Regions from separate parts of the Homo sapiens genome. Here region 2 is linked to region 1. Evidence: fine-mapped expression QTL. Tissue or cell type: tibial artery. Region 1 holds a variant in brackets; the other region holds the start of a gene. All regions are shown on one strand. Distances are from middle to middle.

Region 1 (2,500 bases):
GTGTTTGGTTTTTTGTTCTTACAATAGTTGACTGAGAATGATGATTTCCAATTTCATCCATGTCCCTACAAAGGACATGAACTCATCATTTTTTATGGCTGCATAGTATTCCATGGTGTATATGTGCCACATTTTCTTAATCCAGTCTATCATTGTTGGACATTTGGGTTGGTTCCAAGTCTTTGCTATTGTGAATAATGCCGCAATAAACATACGTGTGCATGTGTCTTTATAGCAGCATGATTTATAGTCCTTTGGGTATATACCCAGTAATGGGATGGCTGGGTATATACCCAGTAATGGGATGGTATTTCCAGTTCTAGATCCCTGAGGAATCGCCACACTGACTTCCACAATAGTTGAACTAGTTTACAGTCCCACCAACAGTGTAAAAGTGTTCCTATTTCTCCACATCTTCTCCAGCACCTGTTGTTTCCTGACTTTTTAATGATTGCCATTCTAACTGGTGTGAGATGGTATCTCATTGTGGTTTTGATTTGCATTTCTCTGATGGCCAGTAATGATGAGCATTTTTTCATGTGTCTTTTGGCTGCATAAATGTCTTCTTTTGAGAAGTGTCTGTTCATGTCCTTCGCCCACTTTTTGATGGGGTTGTTTGTTTTTTTCTTGTAAATTTGTTTGAGTTCATTGTAGATTCTGGATATTAGCCCTTTGTCAGATGAGTAGGTTGCGAAAATTTTCTCCCATTTTGTAGGTTGCCTGTTCACTCTGATGGTAGTTTCTTTTGCTGTGCAGAAGCTCTTTAGTTTAATTAGATCCCATTTGTCAATTTTGGCTTTTGTTGCCATTGCTTTTGGTGTTTTAGACATGAAGTCCTTGCCCATGCCTATGTCCTGAATGGTATTGCCTAGGTTTTCTTCTAGGGTTTTTATGGTTTTAGGTCTAACGTTTTAAGTCTTTAATCCATCTTGAATTGATTTTTGTATAAGGTGTAAGGAAGGGATCCGGTTTCAGCTTTCCACATATGGCTAGCCAGTTTTCCCAGCACCATTTATTAAATAGGGAATCCTTTCCCCATTGCTTGTTTTTCTCAGGTTTGTCAAAGATCAGATAGTTGTAGACATGCGGC[G/A]TTATTTCTGAGGGCTCTGTTCTGTTCCATTGATCTATATCTCTGTTTTGGTACCAGTACCATGCTGGAAAACAGCACTTTAAATGACTGACTCCACTGATCAGTATTTACATATGCACTTTCTAAATTTTAGCAGTCTGTCTATAATTATTGTCTTATAATCAATTCCTAGAAATGGAATTACTGATACAGTAGATATAAAACTATACACAAATATTTCTATACAAAGATAATTATTGCAGCTTTATTTTCAAGGGCAAAAAAAGATGGGAAACAATGTCTGCCATGAAGTGGCTAGTTAAATAGATTGTGGTATATTCTTACAATGAGATTTAAAATGTTCTCAGAAGAGATATAATACTTTTGGGGAAGTGCTCATAATATATTAAGTGGACAAGGGATCAATATAGCAGATACAATGTACCAGTATGTCTAAGTCTAATATAGAGAATGCCTTGGGGATCTTGCTAAACTGCAGATTCTGCATTTCTAACAGGCTCCAGGTGATGGGATTGTCCTTCTCCATATTTTACAATCAGAAATGTTTTCTTAAGTTTTAAATAAAACTTTAGGCCAAGCATGGTGGCTCATGTCTGCAATCTCAGCACTTTGGGAGGCCAAGGTGGGAGGATCGCTTAAGTACAAGAGTTCTAGACCAGCCTAGGCAACATAGTGAAACCCGTCTAAACAACAACAACAACAAATTAGCCAAGCATAGTGGCATGCACCTGTGGTCCCAGCTGCTCAGAAGGCTGAGGTGGGAGGATCACTTGAGCCCAGGAGGTCGAGACTGCAGTGAGCCATGATTGTACCACTGTACTCTAGTCTGGGTGACAGAGTGGGACTCGGTCACAAAAAAAAAAAAACAACTCATATGAAACATCCAGAAAAGGCAGATCTAGAGAGACAGCAGACAGCAGGCAGTGAAGCTGGGAGTGGGAATGGGAATTAACAATAAATGGGCATGAAGGATGTGGATGTTATTGGGGTGATGAAAATGTTCTAAAGCATTTTATGATGATGGTTGCATAACTGGGTATGTTTACTAAAAACCATTGAGCTATATTCTTGAAATGGGTGAATTACATGATATTTAAAATGTGCCTCAATAAAGTTACTTTCTGAAGGATTTTTTTAAATGACCAGGCAGATTTTTTAAACTATCACATTATGAAGGCTTCTGTTTCTTCTGCTTCCTTTTCAAGGCCCCATCCTGAATTGCTACTCCTACTGTGGTAAATTGAATGGCAACCCCCTAAAAAGATATGTCAACATTCTAATTCCCAGAATCAGGATCTTATTTGGGGAAAGGGTCCTTGCTGATGTAGTTAAGGATCCTGAGATGAAGAGATCATTCTGGATTATCCTGGGGGTCCCTAAATCCAATGACAAGTGTTGTCCTCATATGAG
Region 2 (2,500 bases), 890 kb before region 1:
TGCAATCACGGTTCACTGCAGCCTTGACTTCCCAGGCTTAAGTGATCCTCCCACCTCAGCCTCTTGAGTAGCTGGGAAAACAGGTGTATACCACTGTGCCTTGCTGATTTTATTTTTTGTAGGGAGGGTTTCACATTGTTGCCTAGGCTGGTCTCTAGCTCCTGGGCTCGAGACCTCCTGCCTAGGCCTCCCAAAGCGCCAGGATTACAGGCACAAGCCACTACGCCTGGCTGGATGCTGTTTTTTCTAACCTCTCCCTCAGCCGAGGCAGTATGCTTGCCTGAGACCTTGAAGTGGCAGCTAGTGGCTGTTTAAAATCCCTTTTGGTGACAAGTAGAAGCCTCTACATTTAGTTTCCAAAAGAGCAGAGGCAGTGGTCCCAGTGACAGTGCCCAGCATTGGGGGTGTCTGTGGTGTAAGTCCTGGGGTATGAACCTGGGAGTACTGGAGAATGACATGGGATCTTGGTCCTGGCTAGGGAGCCGCTTAGCCTGGTGACCATGTGACCTATCCAATATTGTTTAATAAACTTCCCACTTAACCCAGCCACAGTTGGTTTCTGTTGTTTGCAAATGAACTTCGAGACAATGGCAGCTGGTGGCACAGAGATTAGAGCCAGTTACTGGGATTTCTCTTTGGCAAGTCCATCCTGGGTTTGCATCTGGGAAGATCTTTCACAAAAGGAGATGTGGAAGGCACAACCATCCCCTCGTGCCCAATTCAGATGCAGCTTACCCTTTGCAGAGCCTGGCACCTTGGCTATGCCAGCTGCAGGGGAAAGGGGTGGCGGCCACCTGCAAGGGTTGGGCCAATGCTGCACAGGATTCGGGCTCAAGACACCAACACCCTGCTAGGCCAGCGCAGGGAACACTCACCACGGGAGCCTAGGGGCTTCCTCAGGGGCCTTCAAGCACAAAAAGAGATACTTTTCACCCTCCCACCCCCCAACCAGGCTGTATGCCTGCCTGGCCCTCAGTGGGCATGGCAGAAATGCTAGGATTCGTGTTGGATTCATGCATTTTTCAGAATAGTTTAAGGACTGCACGAAGACAGAGGGACGAATCACATGACTTCAGAGTTCATTGGTTCCAACTATTCCAGCTCTCCTGAGAAGGCATGTTTTGCCAAAAGTGCACATATGTTCCTCTAAAGAAAACCATGGTAGTTTTTTGATGGAATTTTTTCCTCTCCCAGGCATCGTCAGACGTGCCCAGCACTCGACTGCAGAGCAGCCTCTCTCACAGTTTCCACTCTCATTTCTCAAAGAACTCTCTTGGTACCTCAAGGCCGTGGCTTTCCTAAGTGGCTTTTTGAGGGAGACAGCAGGGACTGGGCTTTAAGGGGGCCACAGCGCAGCTTTCTTTTCCCCTCACAGGCAGAGCTATCAGTAGCCACGTCGGGTAGAACAGAAGGCATTCTGGGAACGCGGTGCTCTCACATCCTGCAAAGTACAGGCCTGCAGAGCAGATGGCAGGGACTTCAAAAGCTAAGTCACCTTGAAAGATAATGGCACAAAGGGCGATTGGGGGTGGGGTGGGTGGGAGGCTTTTGTACCCTTTTGCAACAAGGAAGCAGAAAAGACAAAAGCTATTTGCCAGCCTGGTGCGGGAATCAACAGAATAGAGAGATGGTTCTGCTGCAATTTCCATCAAGGGTGGCCAAGCCTCCAGTCTTCTTGTCCAGAAGTAAGTGGCATCAACCAACTCTGCCAAACTGCATTTCCTGCCTCCTGATCTGGGGTCTTTTCCTTTTCTTTTTTCACACAGGGAGTATTTCCATCCTCTCTGTCCAGGCAGCTGAGCCTTGACAACCTCTCCTCCCCTTCACCATGCCCCGACTGATCTCCTAATGGAGCCCCACCCCTCGAGTCCCTGGGCCTGTGGAAGGTAGGGTCTCCCCCTCCTCCTCATCCTCCCCCACTCCACTCCAGGTGGGGTTGCAATAGGGCTTATCTGGTTTCCTCTAAGCATGAAGCCCTTGACCAGAGGAGGAGCGGGAGTTCACGTCACGCCCCCATGCTTAGTCCTGGCCTTTTGCATTTTTTGTGGATGGGTAAACTGAGGTACATAGTGGTCAACTCATGCCCAGGATCACAGAGGCACTGGCAGGGTGGCAGGAATGCTGAATTCACCTGATGAGAGCCAGGGACAGCAGCGGGTGGGGCGGTGGCTGCTTTTCAACTGAAGTTGTTAAAAGGAATGCTTATTCCTGGCCCCACCGGCTTGCCCTCCAAGGCAGAACGTGTTAATACCGAGCCCCAGCAAAGGTTCAAATTGACTTCTTGGCTCTGAGCAGGGAGGTAGAAGTTCCTGCCCCCGCCACCCCCGGCTCGAGGCTCCAGGGGCTGCCAGGCTCCTCTCGCCTGGCCTAGAAACAATCCCCTCCTGCCACCTCCACGCAGGTGCTGTCAGGACAGGCCCTCTGCCCTCAAACATCTGCTCCTCTCCTCGGGGAGGGGGGCCTCAGCTGCGCGCTGAAGGGGCCAGGCCTCAGAAGCCTG

Alleles and levels. Alleles are on the strand shown, and positions count from the first base shown. SD is a standard deviation of normalised expression in the study named.
As copies of A replace G in region 1, the expression in tibial artery of the gene that starts at base 1,554 in region 2 goes down (moderate effect, 0.71 SD a copy in GTEx).

Evidence for each region. PIP is the estimated chance that this variant, and not a neighbour inherited with it, causes the effect.
Region 2: it holds the start of PHKA2-AS1, and the variant in region 1 is fine-mapped to the expression of PHKA2-AS1 in tibial artery (GTEx, PIP 0.97).

The regions. Positions count from the first base shown.
Region 1 is chrX:19,779,675-19,782,174 of GRCh38, forward strand. All of the region lies in intron 2 of SH3KBP1 (SH3 domain containing kinase binding protein 1), which reads right to left. Among named protein-coding and RNA genes, the nearest start is that of SH3KBP1, 110 kb to the right of the region's middle. The variant G/A (reference allele first, on the strand shown) is at 1,091.
Region 2 is chrX:18,888,743-18,891,242 of GRCh38, forward strand. PHKA2-AS1 (PHKA2 antisense RNA 1) reads left to right here and starts at 1,554. Exons shown (of 3, transcript NR_029379.1): 1 at 1,554-1,886.